3 separate regions of the Homo sapiens genome follow, and all the other regions are linked to region 2. Evidence: fine-mapped expression QTL. A gene starts in region 2. Each other region holds a variant in brackets. All regions are shown on one strand. Distances are from middle to middle. Region 1 overlaps LOC101929161 (a long non-coding RNA gene). Region 2 holds the start of SLC34A2 (solute carrier family 34 member 2). Region 3 overlaps LOC101929161 (a long non-coding RNA gene).

Region 1 (5,764 bases), 120 kb after region 2:
TTCTCCCAACAACCCTGCAAAGTAGACACTCTCATCCCTATTTTACCACTGAAGTAAATGAAGTTCAGGTTGGGAGCAGTGGCTCACACTTGTAATCCCAACAATTCAGGAGGCTGGGGCCGGAGAATTCCTCCAGCTCAGGAGTTTGAGACCAGGGCAACATAGGGAGACCCTGCTTCTGTTAAATTTAAAAAAAAGAAAGAAAGAAAAGGAAGTTCTGAGAGGGGGTGCCTCTCCAAGGCCACAAACTAAGGAGTCAAGAGCAGAACCCATGCATGCAGCTTCACCTTGGTGACTTTGAACTCACCTGGTCTGACTTATAGATACGGATAACCTCTATGACCCCTGCCAGTGTCTCTGAGTCAATGAGTGCACCCTGTCGCTCAGCCTGAAGTCAGATGGAAATCAGGAGAGACAGTTAAGCTGCTGATAATTAAGGGGTTAGAAGTGTAAATCAAAATGAGCATTGTTTTATGAGTCTCTTTTTATTACTTTCAAGTTTTATTCACCTGATAAGGTAAAAAGAGAATAAAAACAATCAAGAAGGCGAGTCCTTCAATACCCAGGTTACTGCAGCATTTTTTTCTCATTGTGTTTTGTGGACAGATTAAGTATTAAATTATAAAACTAATCTGTTCAGATATCAGGAATAGTGTCAACTTTGATAAAGATTCACTCACTCTGAAGATTACTTTCAAAATGACCTGATCTGACTCAATGAATAATTTAACAATTGATTTTCTGGCAGAAACACTAAAGAATGAAAGACAAGGCCTCCTAAGATCATCTTGGGAGGAAAAATTTCCTTTTTGCTGAGACCTTTATTTCACCTTTAGTTTGCCTGCGATTGACTTTGATGGGAAGATTCCACCATTAGTTCCTGATGGACCAGAGATTTATAGCTTTTCAAATAGATGCTATTTATCTTGATGCGAAGATATATATCGAGGGAAGGGTTGCTTATCGTGTGCCTGAACCTGGGTCAGGCACTAGGGATGCAGAAGCCAGCAGTGTGCATGGGTCCTTACCCTGGCAGAACTTAAGGTCTGGTGGCAGAGGCAGCAGACAGACAGAGACTCAGATGCAGAGTGAGCAACACTCTGGAAACCTAGAGGAGGTACTCTTCCTTCATACTCAGGGACACTCCTCAGATAAGTGCAGGAAGCACAGGAAGTGCAAAGGCCAGGGGGAAAGAGAACCATGGCGCCTGCAGGGATCTGCATGCATCTGAGCAATATTTGGGTGGAAGTTTACCGGAAGCCACAAAGGAGCAGTCAGATGTTCTCACTGTAAGTGCAACAGCCACGGATACCAACCAATACAGGAATGTGTTATTGCATTAATGGTGAAAATACTACAGGAGCCGTTGTCATCAGAAAATTTCATAATTTTCTAAATTATTGAACAACCCTCAGGTAAGTTCTCAATCTATGAAAGTATAATCAGCGTTCAATTTGTGTAGTATTTGCTTTTCTAGAAAATTCAGTATATAGTGCGTATAAAAACTGTAAAAGGCAGGGCACGGTCGCTCATGCCTGTAATCCCAGCATTCTGGGAGGCCGAGGCAGGTGGATCGCGTGAAGTCAGGAGTTTGAGACCAGCCTGGCCAACATGGCCAAACCCCATCTCTACTAAAAATACAAAAATTAGCCAGGCCTGGTGACTCGCACCTGTGATCCCAGCTACTCAGGAGGCTGAGGTGCCAGAATCACTTGAACTCGAGAGGCAGAGGTTGCAGTGTGAGCTAAGATTGCGCCACTGCACTCCAGCCCGGGAGACAGAGTAACATTCTGTCTCAAAAAGAAAAAAGAGAAAAGAAAAGAAAAAAAACTGTGCAAAAAGTACTTTCAGTATGTAAAAATAGATTAATGTTCTAGAAACAGATTTTATATATACATATATATATTTACTTATTTATTTATTTTTTGGACGGAGTCTCAATCTGTCGCCCAGGCTGGAGTGCAGTGGCACGATTTCAGCTCATTGCAACCTCCGCCTCCCAGGCTCAAGTGATTCTCCTGCCTCAGCCTCCTGAGTAGCTGGGATTACAGACGTGCACCACCACACCCAGCTAATTTTTATTTTTAGTAAAGACGGAGTTTCACCATGTTGGCCCGGCTGGTCTTGAACTGCTGACCTCAGGTGATCCCCCTGCCTCATCCTCCCAAGGTGCTGGGATTACAGGCATAAGCCATGGCATCCAGCCTAGATACAGATAATTATATCCTCATTCACCTATGTATGGAATGTCCGATCAGATGTTCAAAGGTCATGCAAGATTCAGGAGAATTTTTTTTTTTTTTTTTTTTTAGACAGAGTCTCACTCTGTAGTCCAGGCTGCAGTGCAATGGTGCGATCTCAACTCAAACCTCTGCCTCCCCGGTTCAAGTGATTCTCCTGCCTCAGCCTCCTGAGTAGCTGGGATTACAGACACCCGCCATCCTGCCTGGCTAATTTTCATACTTTTGTAGAGATGGGGTTTCACTATGTTGGCCAGGCTGCTCTTGAACTCCTGACCTCAGGTGATCCACCTGCCTCGACCTCCCAAAGTGCTGGGATTACAGGTGTGAGCCACTGCACCTGGACAATTCTTTCATGTGTTGAGTTGTTCTGTGTGTTTGAGGATGCCTGGTATCACAGTTCCCCGTACACTAAATGCCTCAGTGCCTCACAAACCACAAGACACCCCCAGGGAGTGGAGCCATCGTTGTTGGCTGAGGTTAGTGTTCCTGGTCTCTGTGCCCACTCTTCCCCATGGGAGAAGGAGTGACTTTTGATTGGTGAGTTTGGGAGAACCTCATCTCTTCTGTATAAATGCCTGGGAATTCCAGTTCTGCCCAGGACTGATGGGAGAGTTAACTCTAGGAAAGATAGCAAACCCATTAGGCTAATTATGTAAAGACATTCTCTACGCAGCTTTGTCAGCAATAAAGCTGACATTTTTCGCTCTCCATCTGCCTCCTCTCATTTTTCAAATGCTTGAAAGAAGCATTGAAGAAAGAAAAGAGCATTTGTTTATTGCCCCTCCACACACAGCACATTTGGAGAAAAGGATAGTCATTGTTACGCCAGGAGGGTTGGGGCCATCCAGGATGCATGAGTGGAGTGAGGCGTAAAGACCCACATAGAACCTCATCACATAGGCTGTGGCTTCTCAGAGGCCCAGGATTCTGGAGAGGAGCTCTTGGGGATTCTGGGAGAGGAGATAAGAGGAGGGAAAGTGCCACCCATGATTTCAACCATAGCAACTGTGGTTTTCTGTGTTTTATATTGGGTTCGAATATACATAAAATCTCATTTGTTTAAAAAAAAAAAAAGGTTCCACTGCAAAAAGAAAAAAAGAAAATGTTC[G/A]GCAACATCTGAGCTGAAGAGTTGGCAGAGAAAAGAAGAGCCCAGGAAGAGTGATAAGGAAGTGCCAAAAATGCAAGAGGAAAGAGGAATATTTGCAGACCAGGAAGCTGAGGAATGGAACTTTTCAAGAGGCAGAAAGTGGCTGAAGGTTGGGTAACACCATAGGGAGGTCAGGGAAGAGGAGGGCAGAAGAGTGACCACAGCGTTTATTGACATTGTGATCTTGGCAGGAACAGGCTCAGGGCAGTGTCAAGGGCCAACCCTAAATGGCAGGGGATTAAGAGGTAAGTAAAGAAGTGAGGAAGTTGAGACCATTTGGACTTCACTGTAAAGAAGATGATGGAGTCCTGGCACAGTGGCTCATGCTTGTAATCCCAGCACTATAGGAGGCCGAGGTGGGCGGATCACCTGAGGTCAGGAGTTGGAGACCAGCCTGACCAACATGGAGAAACCCTGTCTCTACTAAAAATATGAAAATTAGCTAGGCACGGTGGTGGGCACCTGTAATCCCAGGAGGCTGAGGCAGGAGAATCGCTGAACCGGGGCGGGTGGGGGTGACAGAGTTTGCAGTGAGCTGAGATTGCACCACTTCACTCCAGCCTGGGTGAAAGAGCAAAACTTCATCTCGAAAAAGGAAAAAAAGAGGAAGAAGATGATGGACCCTGGATGGTATTAGTTTCTCCAGTGCCTACTGGTTGTCAAAAAGGTCCATGCACAAAGGAAATTAAGTCGCTGCAATGTGCTGGACAATAGAGTATTATTCATGGTTGAAACAGAGAAATCCTTTTTCAAATGTGGTCGAAATAGGAGAAGCAAGGGGTCTGGGAGGAGTAAAACAGCACATCTTTGCCTGCTTTTCTGAAAGGACTGGTTGTAACCATTTTGTTGTTGTTGTTGTTTCATATTGAAGATAGCATTAATCTTTCTAGGAAGTCTGTAGTTCAGATGGGAGCTGCAGTTAACAATGCCCCCTCTGTTGCTAACACGTTAATGAATGTTGAATCAGCAGGAGAGAAATGACTTCTCCTCCCCCATATTCCATGTCCTGCTGATAGCAAGGACATACATGCTGCTGACTGGCTGCCTAATGGCCCATGGAATTCACTGAGGTGACATGGTTAGTGCTGGAGACCTCAAAAGGGCTTCTTCCTTCATTCTTAGACCCAGAGGAAAGCACTGGGAGGAATGAGAAAGTAGCGACTAGACAAAAATGAAAACTCTTTAAGAAGCATTGCTGAAGTTACAGGGGAAAAAGGTAAGAGTCTTAATGGTCATTTTTCTAAGTGCAGCTCTGAAATTGAAATGATGTTTGACCACTCCCACACAAAAACATGGTGAAGAGTGAGATGTGCTTGCATGGCTTTCTGAACTCCACTGGGCAGAAGACCTAACGAGACATGTTAGACCACTGGAAGGAACAAAGGCCCGTGTTCTTCTTCTGGCTCCAGTTCTGAGCTCGTAAGCCACTCTGTTTTCCACCAGTTGCATTCTCTGTGTCTTCATCCACTCATCAACAAAGCCAAATTACAGGCCACTGTGTGGATAATTCAGTCAAGCCTGCCATGTTGCTCAACCAACAGAAGAGAGGAGATTCAAAGGTCAGATGGGAAAGGTGCTTCATGCACTTAAGTTTAATCTCTTAACAACCCGGACAGGCATTATTACCCATTTTACAGATGGTAAAACAGGCCAAGAGAAACAAGTCACTGGCATAAAGTCCCTCAGCTGGTAAGTGACAGAGCTGAGTCAAAAGCCCAGATATGTCTAGCTGTAAATAGTATAAAATGAATGAGTGATAATTGAGTGAATGATAAAAATAAGGAATTAAACTTATGTTTTAGAGATTTTAAGTCTTATTAGGGACTTTTTTTTTTGTTTTCTTTTTTGAGACGGAATCTCACACTGTCGCCAGGCTGGAGTGCAGTGGTGTGGTACCTCTATTCACTGCAATCTCCACCTCCTGGGTTTAAGCGATTCTCCTGCCACAGCCTCTGGAGTAGCTGGGATTACAGGCTCAGGCCACCATTCCCAGCTAATTCTTTTTTTTTTTTTTTTTTTTTGAGACGGGATCTTGTTTTGTTGCCCAGGCTGGAGTGCAGTGGTGCAATGGTGGCTCTCTGCAACCTCTGCCTCCCTGCTTCAGCCTCCCGAGTAGCTGGGACTACAGGTGTGTGCCACCATGCCCGGCTAATTTTTTGTATTTTTAGTAGAGATGGGGTTTCGCCATGTTGGCCAGGCTGGTCTTGAACCCCTGGCCTCAAGTGATCCACTTGCCTCGGCCACCCAAAGTGCTGGGATTATAGGCGTGAGCCACCGCTCCTGGCCTAATCAGGGACTTTTGTTTCTTTCCCTGTTTACTTTCAGAATCACTTCTTTGCCCATAAACAACTGTGAGCCAGACAGTCCTGTCAAT
Region 2 (5,764 bases):
TGACTTGGCTCAGACTTGGGAAGCAGGGGAATGTAGGGTACCTGGCAGTCACCCAACCCCTACATTCGCATTGTTTGGGCTTCTCCAACCAAGACCTGTTCCTGGGCCCCTTGTGCCCAGAGCAGCAGTCAAGGCCATCTGAAGAAATGGGGAGAGGAGGAAGCCCAGGGCAGTGGTCCTGTGAGGAACCAGAACATGGACACACAGTCTCCCATCAGAATGGCAGCCTTCACAAGCACAGGGACTAGAGTATGGCCATTGTATCCCCAGCACATAGGACAGTGCTGGGCACATGGTAGCCAAGTAGTGTTTATTAAAGACTTTGTGCCTGGCACTTGCAAATTGGTGCACAAATTTACTCACAGCATTTCATGTATCTATGTAAACTTAGAGTCTCCTTTAAAATGAACAGTATCCTCATTCTATAGAGGGAAAAACTGAGCCACAGAGAGGTTAATGGCTTCAAATCACATAGGCACCACAACACTGCAGAGATAATTTCAACCTCATGCAGGCCAGTGTTCTCGGGATGCCCAGGAAAACTTTCTTGTACTTTGAAAGAATGACTCTGTGCTTCAAAAATTCCCAAGAGGGTGACGTCTCCTTTTCCTCTGCTTCCCTTACAGCCATCACAAGGAAAAATAATCACCCCTATAGGCTAAGGGTGGTGGCTCACACCTATAATCCCAGCACTTTGGGAGGCCAAAGTGGGAGAGTCCCTTGAACCTGTGAGTTTGAGACCAGCTTAGACAACATAGTGAGACCCTGTCCCTACATTACTGCTAATAATAATCTCTTCAAGGACACAATGGTGGTAGTGATGAGAGGAGTCAAGGAAGCAATTGGCCTGGGCCTCACATTGATAGATAACTTGAGTTTACATTTTTGATGTGGCACACTAATAAACTTTAAACTTGGGCCATATCACCAAACCACACCCTCACCATGCACTATCAATTTGTATTTATGATATCTTAAAATAAATCCTGTAAATAACTTGTAACTATATCAGTTGTGCTGCATTGTATTGGGGGGGGAGGTTAAAGCAGTTAAATTTGTAAATATAAACATCTTAAAAATACCGCAATCTTTTTATAGCCCTCTTTTTGTACCTTTGCATTTTAAAAATTCACTGAGATGAATAAATTCCCTGGGATGTCCTGATTGCTCCCTGCGGTCCCCAGAATGGAAGTGGGGGTGTGGGTGAGGATGGAGGAGTGGAAGATGCCTGAAACTGGTTACTAAAGCCCAGTTTATTCCAAAGCACTCTGATTCTGTGAGGCTGTTTTCCTCATTGCATTGAATTCGGGCTATTTTTTTGTCCCCTTTGTGTCTAACAGCAACAATCAGAAGCCCATCCTCATACCACAGGGGACTTGCTTCATTGAGACAGTTGAGCAATTTGGGGAGTTTTGGATGGGGCAATTTGTTTAGCATCCAAACCTTTTACAAAGCACGCCTTTCTTATCACCCATTCCCCAAATTACAAAAGCAGAGAAGATCATGATCAGCGGGCATGGGACAAAAGAGGCAATCTTTTTTATTTTTGTTTTTCTTTAACAATCTGAAACAACGGCCACTCCTACAAGCACAGTTTTCCAAGAATACCCAACCCAGGACAAGTTAAAGAACTGCCAGCACACAAGGGAAGAAGGAAAAAGGAAAGAACGACAAGGCCCAGAGCGATCAGGGCTAACACAGAAACCCCCTGGGGCACCCAAACAGGAAGAGGGGACTCGAGTGATGAAATCCACAAGCTGCTTCCATGAAATCAACATGTTTGAAAAAGGGACCTCCTCAAAGAAAACGAGATTCCAACTCTCTTCAGCGCAGTGCGAGCCACCGGTGGCAGGCACCGTTGCAGGGAACCTGAACTAACTCCATGCCATGCAGCCCCCAACTTTCTGGCCTGAGGATGCGCAGTCCCCGAACCCAACCACTCCTGTGCACATCTCCTTGTAAGTTATCTCCCCAGCCTGCTCACCCATTTGTGGCTTGGAAAACATAAATTGCGGGCTTTGCTCCCCAAGACGGCTGAAGGACGGACCCTTCGCTGATGGCCACGGGCCCTAATAGAAACAAACTAAGACTGTCTCCTAGGCACCTTAAATAACTGCAAACAAGCACTGTACCACGTGGAAGTCACACTTGGGTGGGGGGCAGTGTCACATCACCAGGCAGCCACCACAAACCTAGAATTTTCATGGTCCTGAGATGTCGCATTCCCCTTCTTATAAAGAATGGAAGACGGCAGCCCAGGGGCTCACAGGGACTAGCGTTGTCACATGGCTAGTTGGTGACCCAGCCACAAAGAGCCTAGCTATCCTGATTCCTAGGTGGAGATTTCTATCCCCTGGGCCTTTCCTCTTCCAAACCACGACTCTCAAAACAGTGATCATTTTAGAATCCACAAGTGTGGCTGATTAATAACACTGTCGATCGTAAGAGTGTAGCAGCAAAAGCTGTAATAAAAGCAATAACCGTAACATTAAGAAGAAAACAACTTGAACATTGTGGAGAGCTTTGTGTTTTTCACTTCTGCGGCCCAAAGCCAGCCAAGTTCCTTGAAGTCAGCACCGAGAGGTATTTGCAAGAATTAAGTGAATCAAAGTCCTTGAAAGAGCGAGGAAGCGCCCCTGCCCCGGCGGCGGTACTCACCAGCGCTCCCTCCGCAGGTGCTGGGCTGGAGGCGGCGGCCAGGTGGAGCGCAGCGCCCCGGGTATATATGGCGAAGGTGTTGCGCAAAGAGGCTGGCCGCTGTCATCACGCCCCTCGCACATTCCAGGACCGCCTGCCGCAGCCGCCGCCGGGGCACTGCCTACCTGCCGCCTTAATGAACCCATCGCGACTTCGCCCGCTGCGCGGAGAAGACGCGCGGCCAGCCAGGCTGCCGAGAGAAAAGCTCCGACGGGCCCCGCCGCGCGAACTGGCCCGAACGGCCCCAAACGGCCCCGCGCCCCTCGGCGCCCCGCGCGCCCTAGCCTGGCTGGTGCGCGCCCTCTCCCGCCCCGACTCGGTCCGCACGAGATTCCCGCAAGTGGGGCTCTCCCGCCCCTGCCTTCTCCTCAAGAACTTGAACCTTCTAGTCTAGCTCCTGTGAGGCTCAAGAGGTCAGAGACGTGAAGACACAGATAAAAGCCAGTTGGAAAGTCAGGGATAAAGCCCTTGGAAACAAAGCCTGGATTGTTCACCTTTATCAGTCTGTGGGGCGCTTTCTGCCCTGGGAGTCTGGGCTCTAGGTCCGCAATGGGAAAGGCTGGGACCGTCAAGCTGAGGAAAAGGAAGGGGGCTGTTCTCACCACTCCGTCCTAAGCCTGCTGCGGGTTTGGCAAACCACTGCGCTCGTTTCACATCCTGCTCTGCCTCGTGTCACCTGCGTGTGTATACAACAGTTCTCCAAACTGCTGTGAGATAGGATCTGTCCCAGGGAGAGTCCACCCCCATGCTTATCCCAACAGCTCCCCAGTTCTGTGCCGGGCACTGCTGGGCAGGCTTTGTCTCCAATGTGCACACGAAAGCCTTCCCTGGGGCTAAGACTGGCGCCCTCTCTAGCTGAGGTTTAAGGGGTTAGGGGATATGATACAATTACCCAGGATTTGCTGAGCAGGAAGAAAACCTGCTTCTTATTCTGAAACCCAGACCCTCTCCTCTGCTGCGCACTCTCCTGGTTTTATAGTGGAGCACAGTGAGGCTCAGTGAGCTTACTAGTTGCCCAGCTCCTCACAACAGCGGAAGCACCCTACTGGAATTAGCTGGTTTCATTCCAACATCGAGTTCTCTCCACTGTGCAAGGGGAAGGACTCGGGAGCACGACTTCCAGGAGCCTAGAGCTCTGGGGCTGGTGTTGGCGGTGGCTAAGCACACTGACTCTGGGCCGAAACTCCGGGAAATCAGTTCCCTGTTCTGCCCCTTGCTTTCCCTGGCTCCATTTGCTTATGTGCAAACTGGGAATAATGGTCCCCGTTGGAGTAAAGTGAGCTAAAATATGTAAAGAATGTGGAATGGTACTTGGCACATAAATAGTATTCAGTGCGAGTTAACCATGATCGTTTTCACAGGGAAACTCTGGTGTTGGGAGAAGATGGGTGGGAAGCCTTGATTAGACTCATCTAGAACCTTCACTGGAGAAATCAAATCTGCTTGGGTTGCTGTTATTACAGGGATGATGGTTTTGCTAGTGGGTGTTGGCCTTCAGATCCAACTCTCAGACAATGATCAACCAGTACCTTTGCAACAAGCAGCTTCTAAAGCATAGTCCACTGATGACAGGAATCCCCTGGCACCTGTTCACCAAGCTCAGCTCTGCCTCCAGCCCTGGGCAAGGCGGACTGCAGACACCACTTGGCTTTACAATGAGGAAGGGCTCTACTGCCAGGGTGCAGAGGAGGAAGCGTGCTGCACACACTGCTGTCGGTGAACTCGACCCGGATTCGGCAAAGCCTGGCTCTTAGTTCATGTCCTGCTCTGCCCTGTGCTTGGGGGTTCACAGGAGCAGGTCTTAACAGGACAGTCACCTCAATGAGAATCCCCTCCTGACTGTGGGCTTTCATTTGGGACACAGACCTAATTGCCTTTCCATTACTTTCAACAAGGAGTGAATGTAGGAGGGAGACCAAAATTTCAAAAACTTGGAGAAAGAAAAAGGTATCCCTTTTGTGTTCCGATTAAAAAGGCAAAACAGGTTCAATCCCGAACATTGTTCTCTTAATGTGTATAGATCTTGGTAGTAGATCAGGGATGGTATCTGATTCTAGTTTGGGATTGTAATTTATATAATTTTTTTTTACAAAGTCTGGAGGAAAGGTAGATGGCGTGTCTGTGTTCATCACTCTATAATCTCTCCCTTTAGGAGAGTACAATTTGCTGAAGAACATTTTCCTATCGTTATTCCATCTGAGATACAAAATACTCTCACCATTTAGTACTTCAAACATAGAGCCTTATGTATAAATACAAACATCTAAAATACTTTCATCGAGGCTGGGTGTGGTGGCTCACATCTGTAATCCCAACAGTTTGGGAGGCCGAGGCAGGCAGATCACTTGAAGCCAGGAGTTGGAGACCCGTCTACCAACATGGCGAAACCCCGTCTCTGCTAAAAATATAAAAAAATCCCAGCTGCTCAGGAGGCTGAGTCACAAGAATCACTTGAACCCGGGAGGCGGAAGTTGCAGTGAGAGCTAACTGCAATCCAGCCTGGATGACAGAATAAGAATCTGTCTCAAAAAAATTAAATTAAAAAAAAATACTTTCATCAAAAAAGTGTCACCAAACCGGGCACAGTGGCTCAAGCCTGTAATCCCAGCATTTTGGGAGGCCGAGACGGGCGGAACACAAGGTCAGGAGATCGAGATGATCCTGGCTAACACAGTGAAACCCTGTCTCTACTAAAAATACAAAAAAAAATTAGCCGGGCATGGTGGCGGGTGCCTGTAGTCCCAGCTACTCAGGAGGCTGAGGCAGGAGAATGGCATGAACCTGGGAGGCAGAGCTTGCAGTGAGCCAAGATCGTGCCACTGCACTCCAGCCTGGGCGACAGAGTGAGACTCTGTCTCAAAAAAAAAAAGTATTACCATTTTTTCAACTCATTTCAGTATATTTTTGCGCCTATTGTCCTATGAGGTGAGATTTAACAAGTTGGTAGGCTCTGTGTTAATCTGGAGAGGAAACACCCCATCCAGGGCTGGCTGCTACCCAGCTTCAGATATTGCATGAGAAAATATAGTCAGATGCTGTCAGATCTTGACTTTTGTGGGGAAGCCAG
Region 3 (5,764 bases), 92 kb after region 2:
CTTGGTTCACTGCAACCTCTGCCTCCCAGGTTCAAGCAATTCTCATGCCTCAGCCCCCCAAGTAGCTAAACTGCAGGCACATGCCACCATGCCCAGCTAATTTTTGAATATTTTGTAGAGATGGGGTTTCACCAATTGGCCAGGCTGGTCTCGAACTCCTGACCTCAGGTGATCTGCCTGCCTTGGCCTCCCAGAGTGTTGGGATTACAGGCATGAGCCACTGCACCCGGTAGCTTTTTTTTCAATCAAAACTCTAATCCCGTTCACTGAAAGGAATCTTTCTGATTAGCCAAGTGAGGTATTGACTTCATACCCACTTCCCAAGTCAATCAGAACGGTCTTTGCCTTTTCATCAGGATTTCTAAACAGCAATAGACATTCATAGGGAAGGAAATGAGCATCTTGTTAAATCTTCACAAATACTCTGATAAGCAAAAATTCAGGTCCATGTTATGCAAACAAGGAAACTGTGGGTGAGGGAGGTCTCAAGATCTCACAGCTAGCAAAAGCTAGAGTGGGCACTCCTGCACAGGTCAGCATGGTTCCAGAACACATGCTCTTTCCATTATACCAGGATGTCCCCTGTGTCCACATGTGTGTATAAATACTGCACTGAGTCACCCAATCCACGTATTGTTATTTCAGTTTTTATCGATGCATCGACACTCTTCACAATATGATTCTTTTTTATTTTTTATTTTTTGAGACAGAATTTCGCCCCTGTTGCCCAGGCTGGAGTGCAATGGTGTAATCTCAGCTCACTGCAACCTCCTCTTCTCAGGTTCGATTGATTCTCCTGCCTCAGCCTCCCGAGTAGCTGGGATTACAGGCATGCGCCACCATGCCCAGTTCATTTTTGTGTTTTTAGTAGAGGCGGGGTTTCACCTTGTTGATCAGGCTGGTCTGAAACTGCTGACCTCATGTGATCCACCCGTCTCAGTCTCCCAAAGTGGTGGGATTACAGGCATGAGCCACTGAGCCGGGCACACGATACGATTCTATGTTAGCCATGAAAGGTCATCTAGTGGTAGCATTGTGCCGAGCACGGCCCTGGTAGCTTACTGTAACAAACTCGTGGTTCCCCAGCAGTAGGTACTGTTGTCATCTCCATTTCTGAGATTAAAAACAGGCTGGGCCAGGCGCGGTGGCTCACGCCTGTAATCCTAGCACTTTGGGAGACCAAGGCAGGTGGATTGACTGAGCTCAGGAGTTTGAGACCAGCCTGGGCAACACGGTGAAACCCCATCTCTACTAAAATACGAAAAATTTGCCAGGCGTGCCAGCATGTGCCTGTAATCCCAGCTGCTTGGGAGGCTGAGACAGGAGAATTGCTTGAACCTGGGAGGCGGAGGTTGCTGTGAGCCGAGATCTTGCCACCGCACTCCAGCCTGGGTGACAGAGCGAGATTCCATCTAAAAAAACAAAAACAACAACAACAAAAAAACCTGAGGCTTAGGGAGTTTAGGTGACTTGTACAAGTCACATGGCTAGTAAGTAGTAAAAAGAGGGTTTGAGCCAGGTGCAATGGCTCACACCAGTAATCGCAACACTTTGGGAGGCCAAGGGGGGAGACTGCTTGAACCCAGGCTGTGTTAGTGCCACTGCACTCCAGGCTGGGTGACAGGGCAAGAGCCTGTCTCAAACAAAACAAAACAAAAAGAGGGTTTGAACCCAGACTTTCAGTCAATCAGTATCCTTATCCGCCTTAACCACTAAACTATACTGCCTCTACCCTACTTGAGGAGGAAGAGTCATTTTACATTTTAATAAAGCATCGGCAGATAGTGTCATATTCATAGCAGGAAATTAATAAATATGGTATTAATTGGTAACGGGGGGGAGACAATCAAGGAAGGGAGGAAATAACAAATTACTAGGTGGGCAGGTAGTCAGAATGGTCTGGTGGATTGTCAGAGATCAAAGATGTTTGGCCGGGCATGGTAGCTCACACCTGTAATCCCAGCACTTTGGGAGGCCGAGGCAGGCAGATCACCTGAGGTCAGGAGTTCAAGACCAGCCTGGCCAACATAGTGAAACCCTGTCCTACTAAAAATATAAAAATTAACCGGGCGTGGTGGCACACACCTGTAATCCCAGCTACTGGGGAGGCTGAGGCAAGAGAATTGCTTGAACCTGGAAGGCCAAGGTTGCAGTGAGCCGACATCACGCCCTTGTACTCCAGCCTGGTGATAAGAGCCAAATGCCGTTTCAGAACAAACAAACAAACAAACAAAAAACCAACTGCAGGGTCAAAAGCCTTTGAGAAAAAGCTGTGATTATCCAAATGTAGTGTTGCCTTCTTGTTCCAGAAAACTGAACTGAGGGGCTGGAAAGAGGGAAGAGCTCCTGGACACCCTTTCAGATCTGAAAAACTGGCCCTGCCTGTTTGATCTAATGCCTTTGAAGGGTTAAATCAGCTCCTTTGGCTCTCCAAGCATTCATTCAACAACAATAAAAAAATTTTTTTGAGATGAGGTCTTGCTCTGTTGTTCAGGCTGGAGTTTAGTGGCGTCGTCACGGCTCACCGCAGCCTCAACCTACTGGGCTCAAGTGATCCTCCCACCTCAGCCTCCCAAAGTGCTGGAATTACAGGCATGCACCACCACGTCCAGACATTCAACAAATATTTACTTAGAGATAACTCCATGCCAGGCACTGGGAACAAGCAAAGGCCCAAATACAGCCCCTGCCTCATGGAGCTTACATCAGAGGAGTCATGAGTAGAATATGATACTTCGGGTGAGGCTAATTGCTATGAAGGTAAACAAAACCATAGCAAGAGTAACAGGAGAGGAGTGCATTTTAAATAGAGTACTCAGGCCAGGTGCTGTGGATTATGCCTGTAATCCTAGCACTTTGGGAGCTCAAGGCAGAGAGATCACTTGAGGTCACGAGACCAGCCTGGGCAACATGGCGAAATCATGCTGGCA[C/T]GTGCCTGTTGTTCCAGCTACTAAAGAGGCTGAGGCAAGACAATCGCTTGAGGCCAGGAACAGTGGCTCATGCTTGTAATCCCAGCACTCTGGGAGGCCAAGGCAGGCAAATCACGAGATCAGAAGTTTGAGACCAGCCTGGCCAACATGGTGAAACCCCTCTCTACTAAAAATACAAAAATTAGCTGGGTGTGATGGTGCATGCCTGTAATCCCAGCTATTCAGGAGACTGAGGCAGGAGAATCACTTGAACCCAGGAGGTGGAGGATGCAGTGAGCCGAGATCGCGCCACTGCACCACTGCACTCCAGCCCAGGTGACAGAGTGAGACTCCATCTCAAAAAAAAAAAAAAAGAGAGAGAGAGAAACACATCATTAGGCAATTTCATCATTGTGTGATCATCCTAGAGTGTACTTTCACAAACCTAGATGGCGTAGCCTGCTACACACCTAGGATATATGGTACAGCTACAAACCTGTACAGCATGTGACTGTACTGAATACTGTAGGCAACTGTAACACAATAAGAAGTATTTATGAATCTAAACATAGGAAATTGTAACACAATGGGAAGTATTTGTGTATCTAAACATAGAAAAGGTACCATGAAAATACAGTATTATAATCTTATGGCACCACAATCATATATGCAGTCCATTGTTGACTGAGATGTTGTTATGTAGCACATGACTGTATATATTTCACTTACTTGGAAAATTGTAATATATGTATTTTTTCACTTAACTTAAAACATATATATTTTATATATACTTTTATTTGAAAAATATGTGTCTATTTCACTTACTTGAAAAGACATCAAATGAAGCAATTAAGAACTTAAGGCCAGGTGTGGTGGCTCATGCCTGTAATCCCAGCACTTGGGAGGCCGAGGCAGGTGGATCACCTGAGGTCAGAAGTTCAAGACCAGCCTAGCCAACATAGTGAAATCCTGTTACTACTAAAAATACAAAAATTAGCCTGGCATGGTGGTGCACACATGTAGTCTCAGCTACTTGGGAGGCTGAGGCAGGAGAATTGCTTGAACCCAGAAGGTGGAGGTTGCAGTGAGCCACGATCATGCCACTGCACTCCAGCCTGGGCGACAGAGCGAGACTCAGTCTCAAAAAACAAATTAAAAAAAGAAAAGAATTTAGGCTGGGCACAATGGCTCACACCTGTAATCCCAGCACTTTGGGAGGCCAAGGCGGGTGGATCACGAGGTCAGGAGATCAAGACCATCCTGGCTAACGCTGTGAAACCCCGTCTCTACTAAAAATACAAAAAAAATTTAGCCGGGCATGGTGGCAGGTGCCTGTAGTCCCGGCTACTCGGGAGGCTGAGGGAGGAGAATGGAGTGAGTGAACCCAGGAGGTGGAGCTTGCAGTGAGCTGAGATCGCGCCACTGCACTCCAGCCGGGGTGACAGAGCGAGACTCCGTCTCAGTAAGTAAGTAAATAAATAAATAAATAAATAAATAAAATAAAATTTAAAAATAAAATAAATTTAAAAATAAAATTAAAAAATAAAAGAATTTAACAACTGGGTTCTTGAGTCAGGCATCCAACCTTTGGCCTGAATCCTTTCTACTCTCTCTCTGTATGGCTTGGGTAGAAACATATTCCTTTATTTTTATTTTATCTTTTTTTTTTACCTGCCACCTATTCTTTGCAGAAACATATTTCTTTAACACTCCATTTTTGAGTTTGTAAAATAGAACTAACAAGAGTGCTGGTCGGGTGCGGTGGCTCATGCCTGTAATCCTAGCACTTTGGGAGGCTGAGGCGGGAGGATCACTTGAGGTCAACAGTTGGAGACCAGCCTGGCCAACATGGCAAAACCCTGTCTCTACTAAAAATACAAAAATTAGCCGGGTGTGGTGGCAGGCACCTGTAATCTCAGCTACTCAGGAGGCTGAGGCAGAATAATCACTTGAATATGGGAGGTGGAGGCTGCAGTGAGCTGAAATCATGCCACTGTACTCCAGCCTGGGTGACAGAGCCAGACTCTGTCTTAAAAAAAAAAAAAAGTGCCTATGGAATGAGGTTATAAGGTTGCTTGAGCATGCACAGAATAGCTGCTCAATAAATGGTAGCTACTACATTATTATCACTATTATTAATATTAAATACCTACTCTCTGTCCAACATTTTGCACGTATTACCTCTATTCATTACCAAGAACCATAGAAGGTAAATATTATTATCCTCAAATACAGATGGAAAAAAATCCCTCAGCTGGAAAGGTTGAGGAACTTGCCCAAGGGGAAGGGACAGCTCTCAGGAAAATCTTTCAACAGTCCTAGGTTCCCATGACCACACCCACCGTGACTTTGCCTTCTCCAGTGAGCATATGTAACAACCCGTGACGTCCATGGTCTTTTCTTGCCCGCACACACGCTACGTTAAGACTCTCTCTTTGTTTAGAAATCACTCTCCTTGATTTGCACTCCGTATCAGGGTTCTTTCTCTGTTTAGAAATCACTCTGCTTTGATTTGTTTGTTTCTATTAAAGAACTGGAAAACCCTTGTCCTTGATGTCTGAATGGCATAAGAGTTGTGACTGCATGGCCCCACGGCATCACAATTTCTGCCCCATGATCATAATAAAAGGAGTTGGGACCTCTGCCCTGTCAGAGCAGTAACCCATTGGGTCTTGGCAGGAGGGCCGGGTCCCACTGTGTCCTCATCCCAGACATTGAGAGTAATGGAGGTGGAAGGTGCCTCAATAGGAAGGATGAAAGCAGCAGAACTGCTACTTGGGTACGAGAACGAATAAAAAATAAGGGAAACCCCTTTTTTTTGTTTTTTGAGACAGCATCTTGCTCTGCCGCCTAGG

Evidence for each region. PIP is the estimated chance that this variant, and not a neighbour inherited with it, causes the effect.
Region 1: its variant is the best candidate, but not a certain one, in a credible set for the expression of SLC34A2 in lung (TOPMed, PIP 0.58).
Region 3: its variant is the best candidate, but not a certain one, in a credible set for the expression of SLC34A2 in nasal epithelium (TOPMed, PIP 0.85).

What each region holds. Positions count from the first base shown.
Region 1 is chr4:25,534,032-25,539,795 of GRCh38, reverse strand. LOC101929161 (a long non-coding RNA gene) reads left to right here. Exons shown (of 4, transcript NR_134641.1): 3 at 4,513-4,606. Among named protein-coding and RNA genes, the nearest start is that of SLC34A2, 120 kb to the left of the region's middle. RefSeq lists an enhancer at 4,031-4,571. The variant G/A (reference allele first, on the strand shown) is at 3,352.
Region 2 is chr4:25,652,785-25,658,548 of GRCh38, reverse strand. SLC34A2 (solute carrier family 34 member 2) reads right to left here and starts at 2,698. Exons shown (of 13, transcript NM_006424.3): 1 at 2,659-2,698. RefSeq lists an enhancer at 2,335-3,248.
Region 3 is chr4:25,560,317-25,566,080 of GRCh38, reverse strand. The region is part of intron 1 of LOC101929161 (a long non-coding RNA gene); the gene reads left to right. Among named protein-coding and RNA genes, the nearest start is that of SLC34A2, 93 kb to the left of the region's middle. The variant C/T (reference allele first, on the strand shown) is at 2,931.